4 linked regions of the Homo sapiens genome follow. The protein of the gene in region 1 purifies or fractionates together with the protein of each later gene. This does not show direct contact. Each region holds a gene or a part of one and is shown in the gene's direction. Other genes may lie near its edges.

The links.
Region 2: the proteins of EIF4E (region 1) and ANGEL1 purify together in Homo sapiens (affinity purification with mass spectrometry; 5 studies listed by BioGRID and IntAct, with this or other methods). This does not show direct contact.
Region 3: the proteins of EIF4E (region 1) and EIF4A1 purify together in Homo sapiens (affinity purification with mass spectrometry; 9 studies listed by BioGRID and IntAct, with this or other methods). This does not show direct contact.
Region 4: the proteins of EIF4E (region 1) and DDX3X purify together in Homo sapiens (co-immunoprecipitation; 3 studies listed by BioGRID and IntAct, with this or other methods). This does not show direct contact.

Annotation. Positions count from the first base shown.
Region 1 is NC_000004.12:98,884,117-98,891,153, reverse strand, and holds part of EIF4E (eukaryotic translation initiation factor 4E), read left to right. Parts: intron 1-3,201; coding exon 3,202-3,265; intron 3,266-3,961; coding exon 3,962-4,075; intron 4,076-4,607; coding exon of another isoform or gene 4,608-4,700; intron 4,701-6,092; coding exon 6,093-6,232; intron 6,233-7,037. UniProt on the Homo sapiens protein: Acts in the cytoplasm to initiate and regulate protein synthesis and is required in the nucleus for export of a subset of mRNAs from the nucleus to the cytoplasm which promotes processes such as RNA capping, processing and splicing.
Region 2 is NC_000014.9:76,802,849-76,809,885, reverse strand, and holds part of ANGEL1 (protein angel homolog 1), read left to right. Parts: intron 1-242; coding exon 243-827; intron 828-1,737; coding exon 1,738-1,964; intron 1,965-2,383; coding exon 2,384-2,453; intron 2,454-3,036; coding exon 3,037-3,470; intron 3,471-4,883; coding exon of another isoform or gene 4,884-5,001; intron 5,002-5,470; coding exon of another isoform or gene 5,471-5,511; intron 5,512-5,973; coding exon 5,974-6,100; intron 6,101-6,404; coding exon 6,405-6,515; intron 6,516-7,037.
Region 3 is NC_000017.11:7,575,807-7,579,525, forward strand, and holds the end of EIF4A1 (eukaryotic initiation factor 4A-I), read left to right. Parts: intron 1-717; coding exon 718-886; intron 887-1,004; exon of another isoform or gene 1,005-1,152; intron 1,153-1,249; coding exon 1,250-1,359; intron 1,360-1,537; coding exon 1,538-1,681; intron 1,682-1,762; coding exon 1,763-1,900; intron 1,901-2,020; coding exon 2,021-2,110; intron 2,111-2,148; exon of another isoform or gene 2,149-2,285; intron 2,286-2,358; coding exon 2,359-2,438; intron 2,439-2,535; coding exon 2,536-2,680; 3' UTR 2,681-3,200; downstream 3,201-3,719. UniProt on the Homo sapiens protein: ATP-dependent RNA helicase which is a subunit of the eIF4F complex involved in cap recognition and is required for mRNA binding to ribosome.
Region 4 is NC_000023.11:41,344,162-41,350,811, forward strand, and holds the end of DDX3X (ATP-dependent RNA helicase DDX3X), read left to right. Parts: intron 1-77; coding exon 78-238; intron 239-1,018; coding exon 1,019-1,163; intron 1,164-1,242; coding exon 1,243-1,387; intron 1,388-2,067; coding exon 2,068-2,249; intron 2,250-2,343; coding exon 2,344-2,461; intron 2,462-2,697; coding exon 2,698-2,851; intron 2,852-3,150; coding exon 3,151-3,290; intron 3,291-3,478; coding exon 3,479-3,558; 3' UTR 3,559-6,113; downstream 6,114-6,650. UniProt on the Homo sapiens protein: Multifunctional ATP-dependent RNA helicase. The ATPase activity can be stimulated by various ribo-and deoxynucleic acids indicative for a relaxed substrate specificity.

The DNA of each region.
Region 1 (7,037 bases):
GTGTGAGTTAAACAGTTAATGAATGTTCATCTATTTTTTTATCTCCTCACAAAAGTTTGAATTGGTGATTATGCTTTATTAGTTTTACAGAGCTTCAATCTTGTCATCCCCCAGCCCCAATTATTGTTTCTTGTCCTGAGATATCCTTAGCTCAAGAATCCATTATTGCCCTTAGAACTTTTGACAGCTAGTTGGAACTTGTTCCACTCCTGGTTGCCAAGATACATTTGCCTCATAACTGGGTATTGCAGTGCGTTGTTGGGTCCTCATTTCTGCAAACTGTTTTCAGTGCAATATCTGGAATTTCCTGTACCAGAGATTTTAAGATATCAAAGGCTGAAGTGTTCAGAATTCACGGTTTGTCAAGGCAATGCCAGTATCTATCATGATACTTTATTCATTTCATTATACTTTGATCAACCTCAAGAAGAATAGTTGAAATATTTTTGAAATTTTGTTTCTGTATAGCAGAAAGTTAAGAATTGGGATCATCAACTTTTGCATGACCTTAAAACAAAATTTAAGGCTGGGCTCAGTGACTCATGCCTGTAATACTAATACTTTGGGATGCTGAGGCAGGAAGATCACTTGCAGCCAGGAGTTCAAGACCAACCTGGTCAACATGAGTCCCTGTTTCTCTATAAAATAAATAAAAATTGTAAAGTCTATTTCAAGAAGTTTTGATAATTGATTCTCTTAAAAACAAAGTTAATCCAGTGTGTCTAATTTACTTGGAGAATGACTAGGGAGGTACTATTTGAGACCATGAAAGGCAAAACTCTTTAATAAGCACTTTAAATTACCTAGCAGTTATCTAAATATTCTAACTTGTACATCTTTTTTTAGGATCATATACATGCTGAATTAGTGATGCTACTCTTATGTTTTAATGTAACCCCCTCAAGATATTCTGCTCATACAAAGAAATAGATTGTGGTATAAAATTTATACATATGTATGTACATCTTCAACAGCAGAAACAATATTTTTCTGTATATTTCCAGTGCTTGGCTTCTAATAGATATTTTGTATTCATTTGTGTTGCTGAAAAAAGCAAAGCATACGATTAAAACCATAAACTTTGAGAGTATTTGAGAACATTCATTTGAGAGTAAACTTTGAGAGTATTTATTTTTTATTAAAAGCATTGACACTTAATAATAACTACATTTAAGGCCTAATAATTTATAGGTCTAGTTTTCTAGTTAAACTAGGATTATTATTCTTTGCCCATCATCAAAACATCAAGTAGTTTTTCTTCTCTAGTTTTGTTTATTCAGGACTCTTAAATAACTCCAGTCTTCTGCACCCCCCAAAAAAAAGCTTTTCATTCTCCTACAGAGAAAAAGGAAGCCTTGAGCCACCTTCCCCAATCAGATTTGCATTTATCTAGTTTGTTTGGCTTTTACCAGTTTACATAATTCTACCTTCTAATTAGAACAGTTCTCCATGCTTCAGTTACATGTAGTCAATGTCATTACATAGTAGGTTTTTATACCATAACTTAGAGATATGAAGGATTTTTCAGTTTTCTATAAATGTGTGGGCCACTTCCTAATTTCTGTTTTTTTCTAGCAAATTTATTGCAGATAACCATTGAGTCCTTTTGTATTTATCCAGACTGCATAGTCTTAGGATTCTGTTTAGATGTGCCATTATAAATTCTCATGATGGACTTACTTGAGAGACCTTTGAGCACCACAGAAGAGAAAGGAGGCAGCAAAAGGGAAAAAGTATTTTATTGAAGGTCATTCCCACAATATCCATTCATTTTATGACATTAGTAGCGCTAATTTTATAGTCACTTAGTATCCCGTCTTTTTTTGTTGCCTAGTGGAGGCTGTCATTGATGATGTAGTTGGGAGTTACCATTAGGTAGTGACTCAGCAAACCTTATGTGGTCTTAGGTTGTCTCACCTAAACTATATTTGTGTGTTATACTATGGAATTTGATTTAAAGATGCCAACTTCTTTCTTAAATCTTTTTTTTTTTTTTGAGATGGAGTCTAGCTCTGTCACCAGGCTGAAGTGCAATGGGGTGATCTCGGCTCACTGCAACCTCCGCCTCCTGGGTTCAAGCGATTTTCCTGCCTCAGCCTCCCTAGTAGCTGGGATTACAGGCGCATGCCACCACGCCCGGCTAATTTTTGTATTTTTAGTAGAGACAGGGTTTCATCATGTTGGTCAGGCTGGTCTCGAACTCCTGACCTCATGATCCACCTGCCTCGGCCTCCCAAAGTGCTGGGATTACAGGCGTGAGCCACTGCACCCGGCCCTTAAATCTTTACCTGAAATATTCCTAGATGGGGTTAACATAGCACCAGGAGAACCAGACTAAGGATAGTAGAATCATCCATGGTCTGTAGACACAGCTAAGATCATTATTTCTGCCATCTAATATTGGAGACAAGCAAAAGATTCTTAAGAGTTGCCAATTTTTAAATCAATTTTGCTGTAAAAGACTACAGGAGATCAAATGATCTAAGCCTCCTACCTTCAGGCAAGCAACTAAGTCATCGCAAATGTTATTCTGTTATTTTGATACTTGGGAAATAGTTTAGAAATACAGACTGCAGGGTTCCATCTTATATTTAGGTGATTATAATCCCAAGATGTAGGGCTTGTAACTATATTTATTTATTTATTTTTCTAAAATCAGTTTTAAAATGATTATTATGTTGACTAACCAGTGACAGTTTGTGGTGTTTGGGAACCGTTGATCTATTCTACTCTTGGATACCTTCAAGGATAATGACTGTTTCAGTCATGCAATCCTGATGGTCAGGAAGTTCATCGTTTCTGGTTTTTGTTTTTGTTTTTGTTTTTGTTTTTTTATGTTTGTGAAAAAAACTGTGTATTAACTTCAGAAATTATTTCATCTACTTAAAGCCACCTTATACCTCTCTTCTCAGTTTCTTATATATATACATATGTATGCACTGAGTTAACTAACATAAAATATATTTTTGTCAGAGCAGTCACTAGAAGTTTTTTTGAAAATTATACCTGTCATCTGAAGTTGATTATTTAACTGCTTTTAAGATCTGTTTTGTCCATTTTAGAAATTGACTCCTTAGAAACAAGTAAACATGAACTTTTATCTGTTTATTTTCATCATATGTTCTAAATGTATATATATGTAAGCACCTAAACTCTATATTACATATTCTGTGTTTTTAATTGTTATTTTCTTTTACCTAGTCTGTACAACCATATCCAGTTGTCTAGTAATTTAATGCCTGGCTGTGACTACTCACTTTTTAAGGTATGCTTAATTGGTGATTTTATATATTTATTATAGGACTGGGCCATTTGGTATTCATTAAGAAATCTTACCATAAACTTAGGAATATTTGATAGTGTGATGAATAGGCTGATAATTTAATTGGCTGTAGTATGCTTTAGTATCAATATATCTTATTCTATTTGTTTATAAAAATTGAGAGAGAGTTACTCTGTGGGCACATACTGAGATTGATTTTGATGAGAGCTTTGATTATCCAGTCTACTCCTTCCTTTATATATTTGAGCAGACTGAGTTTATCAAGCATTCTTAACCTTAGGAGCATGGGTCCTTGGAATACTTATTATTGGGCTTTGTCAGTTGGTAGAGGGACGGGACATTCATTAACTGAAATTGCATAGTTTTTGCATGTATTTTCTAGCTGTAGAAATGTACAGAGCTTCTAAAATATGTTTGCTTCTCAGAAAGTTTAAGAACCTTCAAATTAAGTGAAACCCAAGATTTGATAGCTAATAAGTGACAAAGCCAGGACTCTAATTCTGCAATGTCATGCCTCTGGCTTTAAGTCTTATGTGCTGTTTAAAAACTACATCAATGGCAGTTTTATGGGCAATAAAGTAAGAAGTTGACAGTGTTGTTGCTTAACTGTTTCTAATGATTATCTCTCAAAGTCAAGGTAACAATGTTGTGTAATACTGTTGTCTTCTAACCCTGTAGGATGGTATTGAGCCTATGTGGGAAGATGAGAAAAACAAACGGGGAGGACGATGGCTAATTACATTGAACAAACAGCAGAGACGAAGTGACCTCGATCGCTTTTGGCTAGAGACAGTAAGGTTTTAAAAGTATAAAGCAGTTTTAGAGGTAGTTTTGGAATACTGATACTTAAGATATGTTATGTTTTACATTTGTTACTTAATTTAAGAGAAGGATGCCCAACACTAGAAAATCAGGGTCAGTAATTATTTTTGTTCTGTCATATGACTCCTGTTTATAGTACAGTGAAACATCCTACCACATTATAAGTCAGATATTTTAAGTGATTGGCAGTTGACTCTCACCACAGTAAGCTCACTGTGGTCATTTCATTAACCTCAAAATTATAGAACCTTACATTTTGTATGATTGAAGTTTTTGCAACCCTCTTACAGCATTGCTATATGTATACTAAACTTTTAAATACTTATATTTTTAGAGCGAGGGTCTTGCTCTGTTGCCCAGGCTGGAGTGCGGATATTTATTTATATGGCTCATTTCAGCCTCACCCTCTGGGTTCAAGTGATCCTCCCACTTCAGCCTCTTAAGTAGCTGGGACTACAGGTGCATGCCACCATGCCCAGCTAATTTTCTAATTTTTTTCCAGAGATGGGATCTTGCTATGTTGCCCAGGTTGGTCTCAAACTTCTGGCCTCAAGTGATCCTCCCACTTCAGCCTCCCAAAGTGCTGGAATTACAGGTGTGAGTCACTGTGCCTGTCCCACTAAACTTTTTAGATTAGTGAAGCAAATAATAAAATTGTTGTGTACTACCATTTGACCTACATGTTGTGATATTAACTGGAACTTCTGGCTTTACAAGACAAATTAAATATGAGATAATAAGCATTTTCTGTAGACAGAGGTTCCAAACCCCAAGCTTATAGGAGCGGGGTTTGTAGTCTCTTTTGTATCCCTAGCACTTGAAACCGTGCCTGGTTTATAGTTAGCACTTGTTAAGTTAATCACTTTAAATGTTTGAATAAGTGACTATTTTGCTTTTTTTTAGAGACAGGGTCTTGTTCTGTCGCCCAGGCTAGAGTGCAGTGGGGCCATCATAGCTCACTGTAGCCTCCTGGGTTCAAGCAATCATCCTGCCTTAGCCTCTCAAGTAGCTGGGACTACAGGTGCATGCCAGCACAGCCAGCTAATGAATGAATGACTTTTTAAGAAGAAAATTCTGTTTTTGAGGGGGAAGATCATGAGCAAATACCATTTTTGAATTCCACATTAAAAAGTCAGGACATTTCCATTTTGCAGTTAAAAAAAATCTTCTGGAGATGGATGGTAGTAGGGATGGTTGTACAACAATGTTGAATGTACTTAACACCACTGAACTGTACACTTAAAGGTGGTTAAAATGGTAAATTTTATGTTATTTGTATTTTACCACAATTAAGAAATCTGTTAGGGCTGGGCTCACACCTGTGATCTCAACACTTCAGGAGGCTGAGGCAGGCATTTCACTTAAACTCAGGAGTTCAAGACCAGTTTGGGCAACATGGCAAAACCCTGTCTCTACAAAAAATACAAAAATTAACTGGGTATGGTGACATGTCCCTGTATGTATGCCCACCTACTCAGGAGGCTGAGGTGGAAGGATCATTTGAGCCCAGGAGGTTGAGGCTGCAGTGAGCTGTGATGATCCCACTGCACTCCAGCCAGGGTGACAGAGCAAGACCCTGTCTCAAACAACAACAACAACAAAAAACCAGACCATTAACAAATATTCATAAAAAATAAGAACAAGAGGAGATTAACCATGAATAGCTATTTTTATTATTCTATTAATATTTGTTTGCTCATAAATATAAGCAGCAGCAGAGCAAATGAATATTAATAAAATCAGCTTTTATGTCTGCCATGACATTAACTGCCAAATTTGCTGAAAAAGGCTGATTTGATAGTAAATAAATGAATGAGTATTTAAAAGTCAGGACAGATCAATATATGCAAATAAAATTTACACATTTAAAAAATTAACTCTTGATTTAAAAACTGCCTTTAGTTTCTATGCAAATACAGAAGAGACATTTGCAGTGTAATGAGCTTGTTTATAATCTATTAAATGTAATTTGGGATTTTTTTTTAAGCTTCTGTGCCTTATTGGAGAATCTTTTGATGACTACAGTGATGATGTATGTGGCGCTGTTGTTAATGTTAGAGCTAAAGGTGATAAGATAGCAATATGGACTACTGAATGTGAAAACAGAGAAGCTGTTACACATATAGGGTAAGTTTTGCTCTTTGCCTACTTATTTTACAGTATTAAGATGAGTAAAACCAGAAGTTATTTTATTTGTAGCTTTAGAAATACTTCAGTTTGTAGATCCTGTTTTCCTTGTATTGTTTTCGTGAACACTTTTATAATTTTGAACGGCTCAATTGGTGCGCAACGTCTTGTTTTTTTGGGTTTTTTCACAGCTATTTATTTATTTATTTATTTAGAGATAGAGTCTCACTCTGTTGTCCAGGCTATATATAGTACAGTGGCATGATCTAGGCTCACTGCAACCTCCGCCTCCCGGGTTCAGGAGATTGTTATGTCTCAGCCTCCCGAGTAGCTGGGAATACAGGCGCATGCCACCATGCTTGGGTAATTTTTATATTTTTAGTAGAGACCAGGTTTTGCCACGTTGGCCAGGCTGGTCTTTTAACTTTTGGTCTCAAGTGATCCGTCCACCTCAGCCTCCCAAAGTGCTATCATTACAGGCATGAGCCACTGCGCCTGGCCTTTTTCATATGTTTTTTATTTCTGTAAAATTGCTTTTTCTTAGCAGTGAAGTATATAACCACTAGAGCACTCTCCTTTGGCATGTAGCATTTTTTATTCATTCACAAATGAGAATGTATTATTTCCTACTTTGAAAGTGCTGTTTGGAAAAAAGTACTACTTTGAAAAGAGCTAATGTATGCTCATAATAATAATTCAGTGATTATTGGCAAATAGTATATGTGCATTTAAAGCATGTGTGTTTACTACGTATAATTTTCATTAAAATTTATATAACATATCTTGGTTTTTGTTCCATGTTTAA
Region 2 (7,037 bases), on another chromosome or scaffold:
TTATCAGATCCCTGCCATATAAATTAGTCAACACTTGTAAAGAACAGTGCCTGGCACATAGTGAATACTTTGCCCTGATGATGATGATGATGTTCAGGCATTAAGGTAGGCAGGCTCAGTGATGGTACAATGATGAGCAAGGTGGATATGGGTCTTGCTTTTATTGGGCTTATGTTTTAGCTGGGAGAATAGTGTGGGTTGGATGACAGTCTTATAACCTGGTATTTTGGCTTTCCTCCTAGATGCTTTCTTCACATGTCGAAAAAATGTCCTTCTGGCGAACAGCTCATCCCCCCAGGTAGAGGGCGACTTTGCCATGGCCCCTCGGGGCCCTGAGCAGGAGGAATGTGAGGGCCTGCTGCAGCAGTGGCGAGAAGAAGGGTTGAGCCAGGTGCTCTCAACTGCAAGTGAGGGGCCCCTTATAGATAAAGGACTAGCCCAGAGCAGCCTGGCACTTCTGATGGATAATCCTGGAGAAGAGAATGCTGCTTCAGAGGACAGGTGGTCCAGCAGGCAGCTGAGTGACCTTCGGGCTGCAGAGAACCTGGATGAGCCTTTCCCTGAGATGCTAGGAGAGGAGCCACTGCTGGAGGTGGAGGGGGTGGAGGGCTCCATGTGGGCAGCTATCCCCATGCAGTCGGAGCCCCAGTATGCAGACTGTGCTGCCCTCCCAGTGGGTGCCCTGGCCACAGAGCAGTGGGAAGAGGACCCAGCGGTGTTGGCCTGGAGCATAGCACCTGAGCCTGTGCCCCAGGAAGAGGCTTCCATCTGGCCCTTTGAGGGCCTGGGGCAGTTGCAGCCTCCCGCAGTGGAAATACCATATCATGGTGAGTCTGACAACTGGTTGAGTGAGCCAAGGGAACAGGGTGTCTCAGGTGTGGGCAGAGCCATTGCTAAAGAGAAGATTCTATGGTAGGGAGCTCTGCCACTGCATTCTATTTTTCTAAGAATCTTGGCATGTCAGATCTAGAGGGTCCTTACAGATCATCTCATCCAGCCCCATGGTTTTAAAGGTGAAATAATCAGAGTGCAGAGAGGTAGTAGAACATGACTAAAGTCATAAAGCCAGGTAGGGGAAGAACTGAAAGCATACTCTAGTTCTGATTCTCCACAATGTCATTTCTCTGGTGGTAACCCTAGGGCTTTCTGGAGGTAGGGATAGAGAGGTCTCAGGGCCTCTAGTCTCTGTCTCAGTCACAATTACCTCAGTTTTATTTGTGTTGTATATTGAGAGTCCGTTAAAATTTGAAGAATGGCGTCAATAGATTTGAAATCCACTATGCTGCCACATGCCATAGGGGAGATGGGGACACACCATAGTTTCTAGTCCCACAGACTCTTCCAGGTTTAGGGGTCAGAAAACACCCAGGGCTGCAATTACTCTAAAAATGTCTTTAACCTCAGGTGACTGTTAAGCACACTCATCTGAGTGATTCTCCGGAGATTCATGGATTTATCAAAAATGAGAGTGTGTCAGCTTCCATATATGGAGCATCTATTAGATGCTAGGTGCTGGGGATGTAGTGGTGAGCAGGCCAAGATTGTCTCTGGCCTTGTGGAGCTAACCATGTCATCTGAAGAATGTCCATAGAAATCAATTCCCCACAGAGAGGGATGGGTGACAGGGAAGATGGAAAAAGGAACTTCAGGCATAATATTACTGAGTCAGGAGTGGAGATGGCAGCACCTCTGCATTACTCATACTTGCCATTGAGTGCTTCTCCCAATCCTTTGCAGAAATTTTGTGGCGAGAATGGGAGGATTTCTCCACCCAGCCAGATGCTCAGGGCCTGAAGGCAGGAGATGGCCCTCAGTTCCAGTTCACTCTGATGTCTTATAACATCCTGGCTCAGGACCTGATGCAGCAGAGCTCAGAGCTCTATCTACATTGCCATCCAGACATCCTCAATTGGAACTATCGCTTCGTGAACCTCATGCAGGAATTCCAGCACTGGGACCCTGATGTGAGTGAAGAGGGGGAATTGCCATCTTGCATTGTTGCTGGACCTGGGCTGTTGCCCAGTGCTCTTAGAAGATGAGTTCAACCCATAGTTGTTCAAATGATTGGAGTCCTATCTAGGGCTGGAGCTTGCCTGCCTGGTGTCAGTGAGTTGTTGGCAGATGCTGAGAAGAATCTCCCTAGATGTGCACTTCCCAGCACCTTTATGCAGGAAGGGAGGCTTGAGGGATTCAAGGAGCAGGAAAATCCAGTGCACATCTCTAATCTCTTCAGCTTAAGTCTGGGCCTGTTCTTGCTGTTGGTGACTCTGGGAAGTTTCAGTGTGACCCAGCAGCTTCCCACCTGGCCTCAGGACCTGCTCCTAGAGGGTGGGGGTCACATTCCAGCACTCTGGAGTGATTGGGTTTCTTGTCAATTTCCCAGATCCTGTGTCTCCAGGAAGTCCAGGAAGATCATTACTGGGAGCAGCTGGAACCCTCTCTGCGAATGATGGGTAATGCAGCTCCCTGGGATGCTTGCCAGCTTTTCTTTCCACAGACTTGTCTACTCTCTCCTGAAGACCCCATCCTTTCCTTTTGTCTTAGTAAACCCTCAGTTTCACCTGTGAGCTAGCTCCTTCCATGTGTGCCTGAGAAAGTAGAATTCTGCAGTTTTATAGCAATTCTGACATACATTGCTATTTGATCCTTGAAGTAACCAATGTGGTGAGACTGTTATTCCCATTTTACAGATGAGGAAACTGAAGTTCTGAAAACTCATGTGACTTCCTCAGAATCACAAAGCTACAAAGCTAGTAGATGTGGAGCTAGGAATCCAGCTTGTCTGACTCTAGATTCTGTGCTCTTTTCTATCATGTTACATTGCTTCATACCCTTCCCTCCTTGCCCTTCCAGCCCCTCAGTCAGCTGGTTACGATGTAAGGGGGAACCTGCTGAACCAAGGAAGTGGCAAAGGCTCCTTTACTGAGTAGCAGGAACAATGCCTCAGGGGCATACACTGGGACTGCTGGTGCTGGTTGGAAGGGATTCAGGCTTTAAGGACTCTGACCCATCTCTTTGGTGGGATTTTCCTTGCAGGCTTTACCTGTTTCTACAAGAGGAGGACTGGGTGTAAAACCGATGGCTGTGCTGTCTGCTACAAGCCTACCAGATTCCGCCTGCTCTGTGCTAGCCCTGTGGAGTACTTCCGGCCTGGCTTGGAGCTACTTAATCGGGATAATGTGGGCTTAGTGTTGCTACTGCAACCACTCGTCCCAGAAGGCCTGGGACAAGTCTCGGTGGCCCCGCTGTGTGTGGCAAATACCCATATCCTTTACAACCCACGCCGGGGCGATGTCAAGCTGGCCCAGATGGCCATTCTCCTGGCGGAAGTGGACAAGGTGGCCAGACTGTCAGATGGCAGCCACTGCCCCATCATCTTGTGCGGGGACCTAAATTCTGTCCCTGATTCACCTCTCTACAACTTCATCAGGGATGGAGAGCTCCAGTACCATGGGATGCCAGCCTGGAAGGTGAAATGGGAGAGGCCACGGTGTGGGTGGGAACATGGTCTAAGAGAGATTCAGGCGTTAGCATCAGTGCTTCTTCTGTGGCAGGGACCTCAGTACACCTGCTCTGGCCTGCTCCTCCTTTTTCTTGTTATGTTGAATAGCTTGTACCCAAGCCTGGAAGTTAAGAATTCTTGAGTACTTCGGCATATTGGAATTTTTTTCAGTTTTTATCATTAATATTTTTAATTCACAAGTAATACGTAAGTACATACTTGAAGGAACTTAAACATTATACAGTAAGACACAGGCCTGTTTTATTACCCACATTCCCTATTCTATTCTCTTAGAGTAACATAATGACCGTTCTAAGTTTGGTGGTAGTCTTTTAGCTTGTTTTCTTTGCATTTACAGTGATATCTATGTTCCTATGATATTGTAATCAGTGTTTACATTTGTTAAGCACTTAAGTGTGTGCCATGTGCTATTTTAAGCACTTTATACTCATTAACTAATTAGTTTTCACAGTTTCCATCATGGCTTCCATTTTATAAATGAGGAAACTAAAGCTCAGAAAAGTGAAGTAATTTGCCCTAGGTTATGCGGGTAGTTAGTGGTGGAGCCAGGATTTGTAACCAGGTGGTCTGGCTGCAGAGCTCTTACCCTCAAATACTGTGCTGTCATTGCTTATAACAGCCAATATGTAATCTACCATGTGTGTTTTATAAACATGATACACTACTGTATGTTTCATTTGTAGCTTGTTTTTTTTCACTCAGCAATTTGCATATGGATCTCATTCCTTCTAACTGTTGAGTGTTGATGACAAACACCTCGTAGTTTTATCAGCTTGTGCTGATTTCTTTATGTCACTTAATCTCCTTGTTCCTCTATTTTGCCCCTACTGTTTCAATTTATTGACTAACTTTTGGCAAGGCACAATGGTGGAAGGACACAAAACGATTGTATTACTGTTGCGCACATGGGATTTTATGTAAATGAGCCAGATGTGTGCAGAGAAAGGCATGATCTTGCCCTAAAGGAGCTGTAATCAAGGAACTCAGGGAACGAGGAAAAGAATTTACTGACTGCCTGCCACATGACAGGCACTGTTAGGCATAGTGAATGAGAGCACTTGCTTTGAAGCCAGACAGTCCTGAGTTCAGATCCGTGCTCTGCCACCTTGAGCAAATTACTTAACTTTTTTGAACCCCATTTGCCTCATCTATACGATGGGGGATATAATGGGACCTGCCTCAGAGGTGTTTTTTTGGGTGGATTAAATAAAATAATGCGTGTAAAGTGTTTTCCAGTATCTGGCTCAAAGTCAGTAACCGGTAGTGATTATTAAGATTCTTAATTGTACATGGTATTATTATCCCATTTTATTTATTTATTTATTTATTTATTTATTTATTTATTTATTTTTTGAGACAGAGTCTCGCTCTGTTGCCCAGGCTGGAGTGCAATGGCACGATCTCGGCTCACTGCAACCTCTGCCTCCTGGGTTCATGTGATTCTCCTGCCTCAGCCTCCCAAGTAGCTGGGATTACAGGTGTGTGCCACCATGCTCGGCTGATTTTTGTATGTTTAGTAGAGACGGGGTTTCGCCATGTTGGCCAGGCTGGTCTCGAACTCCTGAACTCAGGTGATCCACCTACCTCAGCCTCCCAAAGTGCTAGGATTACAGGCGTGAGCCACTGCGCCTGGCCTATCCCATTTTATAGTAGGAGATATTGAACCCAAGAGAGTTAACTAACTTGCCAAAAGTCACACAGCTATTAAGTGGCCATTGAATTGCAGATCTGTTTTACTTCTGATGACATATTGAAAATTTATGCCCTTACAGGGCAAGGGGATTCTGTCTATTGCTGCTCTATCCCCAGCACCTAGCTAGTGTCTTTTGGCTTTCAAATATTTGTTGTTGTTAAATGGCATAAAGGGACTTTTGCTACACACGTTGGAGATGTGCAGATGACTGATGTTGCCGAATGTTTCCCCTACTACGTTTTGTCCGTTCCCAGGCTGCTCATTGGCTTTGACCGAGGATGGTGACGTAGATACGGTAAAGTGCTTTGGTGCTTTCCCATTTGGTTTGACCCTGTGGTTACCCAGTAATAGGTTCAGGATATTAGACCTTGATCCAGAAGATCCAAAGATGAGGATAAACCTTTAACCATTGCAACTTAAAGCCCCTGAGAGTTGATATTCCCTGTGGAGGAGAATTGTATTGATTTTTCAGAGGTAAAATTTAGGGAACCACATGTTCATACTATTCGATTCCCCTTGATTCAGTCTCTTACCCCTCCTCCTGTTTCATGGACATTTCAGTGTTGCCAGTGAAAAAGTAATGGTTTTAATTTGGTCCTTATTTTTAACCTGCCCCTGAGACTTATATGCTTGTTTATACCATGTACGTAGTGTGTGATTGTATGTGTTTGTATTTGTCCACATGTCCCAAAACATGGGCTGTTACTTCCTTTTTCTATCTTGGTTTCCTTATTCCCACCCTTCTTTTTCCACCCAGGTATCTGGACAGGAAGACTTCTCCCATCAGCTTTACCAGAGGAAGCTGCAGGCCCCACTGTGGCCCAGCTCCCTGGGCATCACTGATTGCTGTCAGTATGTCACCTCCTGTCACCCCAAGAGATCAGGTGAGCACATGTCACATTCTTGGTTGGCTGTGTCTTCATGCCCATTTTGGGAGAAAGCTGGTGTCTCAACGACAAGAAAAAGTGTAATCCCTCATTTCTCTTAGCAGATTCCTCTGTTTTCTCACTATCCTCCCAATGGCTGTCCAATGAAATGGACAACTTTAAATCATAGCCTTTGGAAAATCTCCTTGTCTTCTGAATGCTTCCTCTGTGTACCTATGCTGGAAGTTGCTTGGTACTAAGGAGGTCTCAGCATGTGGCTTCATCGTCTTTCTTTCACTATATGTCTTTTCCTGGTTTACAGAGAGACGCAAGTATGGCCGAGACTTCCTGCTACGTTTCCGCTTCTGCAGCATCGCTTGTCAGCGACCAGTAGGACTGGTCCTTATGGAAGGAGTGACAGATACTAAGCCAGGTAATGGGAACTAATCCCAGTTTCTTGGTCTTCTTTCTTCCTCATTCCTGATATTGGTCAGTTATGTGGTTTCCTGCTCTTTTCTAAGTATAATTCTTAGAGATTAGCTTCTGGTAATACGTATATTTAGAAGGAAGGTTAGTTGAGTTCAGTGGCCATTGCATGGATGTGCAGTGTGATAAGAGTGCCGGACCAGGAATCAAGACACCTGGGTTGTAACTAGCTTTGAGAGCTTGGGTAAGCCATTTAACCTTTTTAAGCTTAAGTTGCTAATGACTAGCATGTGTACAGCATATATAGGGGAGAAGTTACACATGATGGGGCTTTGAAAATCATAAGGTGACAGTGGTTCTGATTTTAATAAAAGTTGTTCCTACTGAGAAATTTCAGATTGAATATAGCAGAGTATACTTGACATTCTCCCCTTCTTGTCTCTGAAACCACTTCAAAGCAACAAGGAGAATGGAAAAAAGAAATGTAAACTCCATTGTAGACAAAACTGGGAAATTTGAAGATATCTGA
Region 3 (3,719 bases), on another chromosome or scaffold:
GAACATGCCTCGTAGCTTGGGTCCTATGGCAGGAGTGCAATAGGACATGGATATGCATCACCTGTTCTATAAAACTGGTTGCTGGCTGGGTGTGGTGGCTCAACTCGTATAATCCCAACACTTTGGGAGGCCAAGGCAGGCAGATCTCTTGAGATCAGGAGTTGGAGACCAGCCTGGCCAACATAGTGAAACCCCGCTTCTACTAAAAATACAAAAATTAGCCAGGCATGGTGGCGTGTGCCTTTTATCCCAGCTACTCGGGAAGCTCAGGCAGGAGAATTTAACCCAGGAGGTGGAGGTTGCAGTGAGCTGAGATTGTGCCATTGCACTCCAGCCTGGGCAACGAGCAAAGCTCTGTCTCAAAAAAAGAAAAAAAAAATGGTTGCTGCGTGATGAGGCAGTTGGTCAAATTAGTTTTCAGAAGGTTAAGGGTTCTAAATATCTAGAGTAAAGAAACTGAATTAATTATCTGAGCGGCCTCATTGTGAATCACTGTACACTCAGGAACCAGACTGAGTTGAAATCCTGTCTTTGCCACCTATTGACAGCACGATCTTAAGTGGATTTTAGCCTCTGCCTGTTTCTCAGCTGAATGTGAGTTTAATAATAGTGCATGCCCCAAAGTTGTTGGTTAGGAATCAATACATGAAAAACATTTAAGAATGGTGCCGGGCACAGTGGTAACTGACATATGAGCACCTGCCTCTCTCTGCTCAGATACAGAAGGTGGTCATGGCACTAGGAGACTACATGGGCGCCTCCTGTCACGCCTGTATCGGGGGCACCAACGTGCGTGCTGAGGTGCAGAAACTGCAGATGGAAGCTCCCCACATCATCGTGGGTACCCCTGGCCGTGTGTTTGATATGCTTAACCGGAGATACCTGTGTGAGTAATTCGGTTCTCCAATCCCCTGGGTCACTTTGCTCTTGTGCACGCTTTCCAGTCTTTCAGCGTAAGCCAGAGTCATTCCCAAGGATGCTGGTTTCTCTCTGGGGGAAGAGCTGCTCTGTGATGGAGCCCATGCGTGTCATCTGAGCCTCTGGCTTCCCTGCCAGTGCAGCCCTGGCAGTGTCCTACTTCCCAGGGCTGTTGTCTGCCTGGCGGGAAGGTCCTGGGCAAAGGATCAGTCTTTGTACTCTGAGAGCAGACTACTTGGCTCCTCTCTGTTTTTTATCAGCGAAGTTGGATATATCTCTCCCACATTTCCCTAATCATATGCTATATATTGGCTTTTTTTTTCTTCTCTAGCCCCCAAATACATCAAGATGTTTGTACTGGATGAAGCTGACGAAATGTTAAGCCGTGGATTCAAGGACCAGATCTATGACATATTCCAAAAGCTCAACAGCAACACCCAGGTGAGGGCAGTCTTGCTTGAATAGCTAATGATTCTTGAAAAATAGTAAGTGCCAGGGGAACCATATACTGGATTCTTGAGCCTTTTTATGCATCTGCTTCAGTTTTAGGTGTGGCTAGGGAAGGGAGCAGGCCTCAGGAAGGAACCAGCACTCTAAGACTGGCCTTTTTTTCCACTAGGTAGTTTTGCTGTCAGCCACAATGCCTTCTGATGTGCTTGAGGTGACCAAGAAGTTCATGAGGGACCCCATTCGGATTCTTGTCAAGAAGGAAGAGTTGACCCTGGAGGGTATCCGCCAGTTCTACATCAACGTGGAACGAGAGGTGGGGCCCAGTGCAGGAGGCGGGCCTGGTAGTGAGTTGTTGGGTATAGCCCCTGACTGATTTTTGTCCCCCAACCTCCAGGAGTGGAAGCTGGACACACTATGTGACTTGTATGAAACCCTGACCATCACCCAGGCAGTCATCTTCATCAACACCCGGAGGAAGGTGGACTGGCTCACCGAGAAGATGCATGCTCGAGATTTCACTGTATCCGCCATGGTGTGTTTGCCCGCTGCCAGCCTGTTGTGGGTCTGCCCGTCAGAAGTGTCCTACTTGAAGCCAGGGTTCCTGGAACCCAGGTGCCTACCTGGTCTGCTGCATATTTGTTTTCTCTTCCAGCATGGAGATATGGACCAAAAGGAACGAGACGTGATTATGAGGGAGTTTCGTTCTGGCTCTAGCAGAGTTTTGATTACCACTGACCTGCTGGTGAGTAGAGGGAACTGATAGCAAAGGCAGAAGGGAGGATCCAAGGTGATTCCCTCTCCAAGGGGACATCAGTGCCTCTCAGGAAAGTAGCAGCTTGGAATAGAATCTGGCATGCCTAAGGCCTTTGGGGAACTGGGATGCTTATTTCCTCTGCCTTCCTTGGCTGCCCACATGGATGCCTAAGTGTCTTCCCTCCGGGATAGAGTGTCCTCCGTGCACATGCTGAAGAGTTGTCTTTCTTGACGTAGGCCAGAGGCATTGATGTGCAGCAGGTTTCTTTAGTCATCAACTATGACCTTCCCACCAACAGGGAAAACTATATCCACAGGTAAGCGTAGATCTGGAACACTCCCCTACCCCTTCACACCTGGCCCTCCCTGGGCTTAAAGCTCCTGATATTCCTCATCCCCTTCCTTGTTTTCCAGAATCGGTCGAGGTGGACGGTTTGGCCGTAAAGGTGTGGCTATTAACATGGTGACAGAAGAAGACAAGAGGACTCTTCGAGACATTGAGACCTTCTACAACACCTCCATTGAGGAAATGCCCCTCAATGTTGCTGACCTCATCTGAGGGGCTGTCCTGCCACCCAGCCCCAGCCAGGGCTCAATCTCTGGGGGCTGAGGAGCAGCAGGAGGGGGGAGGGAAGGGAGCCAAGGGATGGACATCTTGTCATTTTTTTTCTTTGAATAAATGTCACTTTTTGAGGCAAAAGAAGGAACCGTGAACATTTTAGACACCCTTTTCTTTGGGGTAGGCTCTTGCCCCAGGCGCCGGCTCTTCTCCCAAAAAAAAAAAAAAAACACTAATCCATTTCCCTAACCTAGTAACCTCCAGATCCCAGAGGCTCTCCTCACCTCAGCTGAGCTCCTTTGAAAGTGATTCAAGGGACTATGTCACTCAGCCTCATTTGCTGGACCAAATCTGGAGGGAGAACCCCTAAAACCCCTAAGTGAGGTTGCCCAGGGGGTTGTCCCCAGGTGGGGGGAAGCAGGGGAGAGAAAATGGTAGCCATTTTTACATTGTTTTGTATAGTATTTATTGATTCAGGAAACAAACACAAAATTCTGAATAAAATGACTTGGAAACTGCCTGTTTGGGCTTCTCATTTCTTACCTCCCCTTCCCTCTCCCACCTGCTACTGGGTGCATCTCTGCTCCCCCCTTCCCCAGCAGATGGTTACCTTTGGGCTGTTGCTTTCTTGTCACCATCTGAGTTCTCAGACGCTGGAAAGCCATGTTCTCGGCTCTGTGAATGACAATGCTGACTGGAGTGCTGCCCCTCTGTAAAGGGCTGGGTGTGGATGGTCACAAGCCCCTCACATGCCTCAGCCAAGAGGAAGTAGTACAGGGGTCAGCCCAGAGGTCCAGGGGAAAGGAGTGGAAACCGATTTCCCCACCAAGGGAGGGGCCTGTACCTCAGCTGTTCCCATAGCTACTTGCCACAACTGCCAAGCAAGTTTCGCTGAGTTTGACACATGGATCCCTGTGGATCAACTGCCCTAGGACTCCGTTTGCACCCATGTGACACTGTTGACTTTGCCCTGATGAAGCAGGGCCAACAGTCCCCTAACTTAATTACAAAAACTAATGACTAAGAGAGAGGTGGCTAG
Region 4 (6,650 bases), on another chromosome or scaffold:
CATTGATTCTAATTAAATGTTTTATGAACATGTAAAAATTTTGACCTTGAAGTTCATAACATTTTTTTTGCTTATAGTTTTCATACCGATCTAGAGTTCGTCCTTGCGTGGTTTATGGTGGTGCCGATATTGGTCAGCAGATTCGAGACTTGGAACGTGGATGCCATTTGTTAGTAGCCACTCCAGGACGTCTAGTGGATATGATGGAAAGAGGAAAGATTGGATTAGACTTTTGCAAGTATGTTTTATTTTGTTTTTGTTTTTTTGTTTTGTTTTGTTTTGTTCTTTTGTTTTTGGCAGAGTTGCGCTCTTGTTGCCCAGGCTGGAGTGCCATGGCGCGATCTCGGCTCACCACAACCTCTGCCTCCCGGGTTCAAGCGATTCTCCTGCCTCAGCCTCCCAGGTAGCTGGGATTACAGGCATGTGCCACCACGCTGGGCTAATTTTTGTATTTTTAGTAGAGGCGGGGTTTCTCCATGTTGGTCAGGCTGGTCTCGAACTCCTGACCTCAGGTGATCCGCCTGCCTTGGCCTCCCAAAGTGCTGGGATTACAGGTGTGAGCCATCGCACCCGGCCAAGTATGTTAATTTTTAAATGTATGGGATGCAGTATTAAAGTTACTGCCCATTAGTTTTGTGGTGATGTTAACATTGTCTAAATGTTAAGGCTGAGAAGTGATGTATTTCAGACATCTAACTTTCACAAAAAGCTTGTTCATGGTAATTTTAATGTTGAAAAATCAGTAACATCTTGGTTGAGACTTACAACAATGATCAGCTCGTGGGACAGTCAACTAGGATGGGCTAATTTGACTGTGTAATCTTGAATGACTTATGTAGTGGCAAGAATCCTGTGCTGTGTCTGTAAAATTATGCAGTGTGAGGCACCATCTTAATGAATATATAATTGTAATAACCTATACAATTGTATTTGTAATTATACTAACAGCCATACTAAAACCATGTTGATTTCTCCTCAAATTCTAAACTCAGGCTTGTTTTTTTTCATGACATGACAGATACTTGGTGTTAGATGAAGCTGATCGGATGTTGGATATGGGGTTTGAGCCTCAGATTCGTAGAATAGTCGAACAAGATACTATGCCTCCAAAGGGTGTCCGCCACACTATGATGTTTAGTGCTACTTTTCCTAAGGAAATACAGGTACTGTTTGATGTTGCAAATTTTATTTATTTAGAAATTTGTTTATCTCAGGTAATAATAAAAATTTTTTTTCTTTCAGATGCTGGCTCGTGATTTCTTAGATGAATATATCTTCTTGGCTGTAGGAAGAGTTGGCTCTACCTCTGAAAACATCACACAGAAAGTAGTTTGGGTGGAAGAATCAGACAAACGGTCATTTCTGCTTGACCTCCTAAATGCAACAGGTAACATTATGAATTTTTTATTTTATTAGACATGGGGGTTTCTCTTTGTTGCCCAGGCTGGAGTGCAGGGGTTATTCACAGGTGTGATCTCATTACTGATCAGCATGGGAGTATTTGACCTGCTCTGTTTCTGACCTGGGCCTGTTCACCCCTCCTTAGGCAACCTGGTGCTCCCTTGCTTCCGGGAGGTTACCATGTTGATGCCAAACTTAGTGTGGACACCTGATAGGCATAGTACACTACAGCCCAGAACTCCTAGACTTAGACAATCCTCCTGCCTCAGTCTCCAGAGTAGCTGGGACTACAGGCACTCACCACTGCACCCAGCTAAAATTATGAATAATTTAATTGCTCTGGTAATAACCCATTTGGGCTGGGTGCAGTGGTACAGTGCATGTAGTCCCAGCTACTTGGCAGGCTGAGGCTGTAGTATGCCATGATTGCACCTGCGAATGGCCAGTGCACTCTCAGCCTGGGCAATTTAGTGAGACCCCCATCTCTTAAATGTATTTGGATTACCTTTATTACTTTTCCTCCTCAATTCAAAACATGCTGTGTTGAAAGCCCGTTTTTAAGAAGATATATATGTATTTTAATTGACACATTAAAATTGTGCATACATAAGTGCAAAGAGAACTAAGCCATGTTAGTGACAAAAACCTATAATTTTTCAACGACAGGCAAGGATTCACTGACCTTAGTGTTTGTGGAGACCAAAAAGGGTGCAGATTCTCTGGAGGATTTCTTATACCATGAAGGATACGCATGTACCAGCATCCATGGAGACCGTTCTCAGAGGGATAGAGAAGAGGCCCTTCACCAGTTCCGCTCAGGAAAAAGCCCAATTTTAGTGGCTACAGCAGTATGTATAAACATCTTTCTTTTATTCAAATTGAGCATGTTCAAGTATTTGTTTTCTTTTAAGTGGGCCATATCTCATAAAAGTTATTTTCCAGGTAGCAGCAAGAGGACTGGACATTTCAAATGTGAAACATGTTATCAATTTTGACTTGCCAAGTGATATTGAAGAATATGTACATCGTATTGGTCGTACGGGACGTGTAGGAAACCTTGGTAAGTATTTGATTACTTGATGGTTTCATTGTTTTTTGCTGTGATGTGTGCAGGAAAGAACTTGCTAGGATCTAAAATACATTTTTAACAATGAAAGTGACAAAGATTTTGCTCAAAGCACTTGTTTAAATATTACGTGGTAATATTTTAAATATTTCTACGTAGGAAAGTAAGAATAGTAGCAAGTTACTTTATGGAAGACCTTTGTTTATATACTTTTTTGGGAACTCTTTTAGGCCTGGCAACCTCATTCTTTAACGAGAGGAACATAAATATTACTAAGGATTTGTTGGATCTTCTTGTTGAAGCTAAACAAGAAGTGCCGTCTTGGTTAGAAAACATGGCTTATGAACACCACTACAAGGGTAGCAGTCGTGGACGTTCTAAGAGGTGAGGTATAAATAGTATATAATGAGGGGAATGGGTGTTCACTTACAGTTCATAGTGTTTCCTCTGCATGCATAACGTCCAAGGTTAACTGTACAGTATTTAAAAAGCTTAATCATCTTAGGCTTCCTAGATTCTTTGGTAAGGGGTTGTATTAGAATGGGTGACACTCTGTTGGGGAAAATATGGCTGGATGGGGAATTGTTTGAATGGAAAAATTAGAAATTGGTCATTAGGAAAGAGTTAGGTTACTTTAGTGGAATTTCATCTTCATGTGAACCAACATAATTTTTTTCTTATAGTAGCAGATTTAGTGGAGGGTTTGGTGCCAGAGACTACCGACAAAGTAGCGGTGCCAGCAGTTCCAGCTTCAGCAGCAGCCGCGCAAGCAGCAGCCGCAGTGGCGGAGGTGGCCACGGTAGCAGCAGAGGATTTGGTGGAGGTAGTGTTAATCTGTAACTTCATAGCTTTGGGAAGGGTTTTTTTCCTTTTAGTCATCTTTTTCAAAGCCTAATTAAACAATTTAAGTTCAGCACTATAGAAACTTGATGGCAAATTACGTAAGGGAAGGATTGTATTTAATGATGGATAACTTCATTAATTTCTCTCTCTTTTTAAATCTCTCATTAGGTGGCTATGGAGGCTTTTACAACAGTGATGGATATGGAGGAAATTATAACTCCCAGGGGGTTGACTGGTGGGGTAACTGAGCCTGCTTTGCAGTAGGTCACCCTGCCAAACAAGCTAATATGGAAACCACATGTAACTTAGCCAGACTATACCTTGTGTAGCTTCAAGAACTCGCAGTACATTACCAGCTGTGATTCTCCACTGAAATTTTTTTTTTAAGGGAGCTCAAGGTCACAAGAAGAAATGAAAGGAACAATCAGCAGCCCTGTTCAGAAGGTGGTTTGAAGACTTCATTGCTGTAGTTTGGATTAACTCCCCTCCCGCCTACCCCCATCCCAAACTGCATTTATAATTTTGTGACTGAGGATCATTTGTTTGTTAATGTACTGTGCCTTTAACTTTAGACAACTTTTTATTTTGATGTCCTGTTGGCTCAGTAATGCTCAAGATATCAATTGTTTTGACAAAATAAATTTACTGAACTTGGGCTAAAATCAAACCTTGGCACACAGGTGTGATACAACTTAACAGGAATCATCGATTCATCCATAAATAATATAAGGAAAAACTTATGCGGTAGCCTGCATTAGGGCTTTTTGATACTTGCAGATTGGGGGAAAACAACAAATGTCTTGAAGCATATTAATGGAATTAGTTTCTAATGTGGCAAACTGTATTAAGTTAAAGTTCTGATTTGCTCACTCTATCCTGGATAGGTATTTAGAACCTGATAGTCTTTAAGCCATTCCAGTCATGATGAGGTGATGTATGAATACATGCATACATTCAAAGCACTGTTTTCAAAGTTAATGCAAGTAAATACAGCAATTCCTCTTTCAACGTTTAGGCAGATCATTAATTATGAGCTAGCCAAATGTGGGCATACTATTACAGGGAAAGTTTAAAGGTCTGATAACTTGAAATAGGTTTTTAGGAGAATTCATCTACTTAGACTTTTTAAATGCCTGCCATAAATGAAATTGAAATGGTAGAATGGCTGACCACAGCAATGACCAGCCCTCATTAGGGCCCTGGATGATTTTTGGTCTAATAACGCATGCTAGTGTTGATGTTTTTTGGTCAAGAGGGTATGAACAGGAAGAATTAAATGCAGCAGGCTTTATTTTAAATGCCGATTCACATTACTCTGTTCAAGCTGCGTTGAGATGTTAAACTGGCTTACTATAGACTTCGTAAAAATGGCTCCAGAAGAGTAACAAACTGAAATCTTTGAGATCACACAGGTTGGAAATATGTACATAACTGCACAAGGTGTCAATTCTGCTCTACAGTGCAGTTTTAGTCAGTTTTAGTTGCATAGGTTTCCATTGTATTTATAGTCTGTTTATGCTAAATCTGGCCAAAGATGAGCATTGTCCACCACTAAAATGCCTCTGCCACTTTGAATTCTGTGCTAATTTTGTGGCCAGAATGCGGTGATCAAAACGCTCCATCTTTTTACAGTGGCATAGGAAGACGGCAAAAATTTCCTAAAGTGCAATAGATTTTCAAGTGTATTGTGCCTTGTTCTAAAACTTTTATTAAGTAGGTGCACTTGACAGTATTGAGGTCATTTGTTATGGTGCTATTTCAATTAGTCTAGGTTTAGGCCCTTGTACATTTTGCCCATAACTTTTTACAAAGTACTTCTTTTATTGCACATTCAGAGAATTTTATATATATGTCTTGTGTGCGTGTCCTTAAACTTCCAATCTTACTTTGTCTCTTGGAGATTGTTGAACGCAGCTTGTCTAGGAAGGGGATGGGACTAGATTCTAAAATTTATTTGGGACCATGGGAATGATAGTTGGGAAGAAAACTATTTGCACACGACAGATTTCTAGATACTTTTTGCTGCTAGTTTTATGTAATATTTATTGAACATTTTGACAAATATTTATTTTTGTAAGCCTAAAAGTGATTCTTTGAAAGTTTAAAGAAACTTGACCAAAAGACAGTACAAAAACACTGGCACTTGAATGTTGAATGTCACCGTATGCGTGAAATTATATATTTCGGGGTAGTGTGAGCTTTTAATGTTTAAGTCATATTAAACTCTTAAGTCAAATTAAGCAGACCCGGCGTTGGCAGTGTAGCCATAACTTTCTGATGTTAGTAAAAACAAAATTGGCGACTTGAAATTAAATCATGCCAAGGTTTTGATACACTTGTCTTAAGATATTAATGAAACACTTCAAAACACTGATGTGAAGTGTCCAGATTCTCAGATGTTTGTTGTGTGGATTTTGTTTAGTTGTGTGTTTTTTTTTTTTTTTCAGTGAATGTCTGGCACATTGCAATCCTCAAACATGTGGTTATCTTTGTTGTATTGGCATAATCAGTGACTTGTACATTCAGCAATAGCATTTGAGCAAGTTTTATCAGCAAGCAATATTTTCAGTTAATAAGGTTTCAAAAATCATGTAAGGATTTAAACTTGCTGAATGTAAAGATTGAACCTCAAGTCACTGTAGCTTTAGTAATTGCTTATTGTATTAGTTTAGATGCTAGCACTGCATGTGCTGTGCATATTCTGATTTTATTAAAATAAAAAGTTGAACTGCACAGTCTCCTTTGTTGTTGTCAATTGTGGTTTATTTTCAGAGGTGTAAATAAAGTGCTCTTGCCTGAAAAATTGTAAAATGTTATTTTTTGCTTGTCATCCAGTGCTATTTTTTGAGATGCCTCTTGGATACAGAATGACTCATACCATAAGTATTTGCAATGAAAGATGAAGATAGTATTAGTTTGAAATACAGTGAAACAGGATTTTTGTAATAGACGGAAATCTAAAAGGCCCTTACTGATAATACAGCATGTATTAGAAATTGGCTTATACTTTGAACAATTTGACATGGGTGGGAGTCTCTTTGTTCTTTGAAGTATCTATTATGAAGGATGGTTGAACAGTGGAAGAATGAGCAGGATAAAAGTCAAGTGTGTCAGTAGTCCAACAAGTGATGGTAAGTATATACTTAGGGAAGGAATCAAGACTATTTGGGCCAGGTGTGATGATTACATAGTCCTATAGTGCTAGTTTACTTGGAAGCTGAGGGGCAGGAAGATTGCTTGAGCCCACGAGTTCAAGTCCAGCCTGGGCAACGTATAGCAAGACCTTATCTCTGAAAACAGGTAATAAGACATCTATGCTTACTGTACACACTGCTGCAAT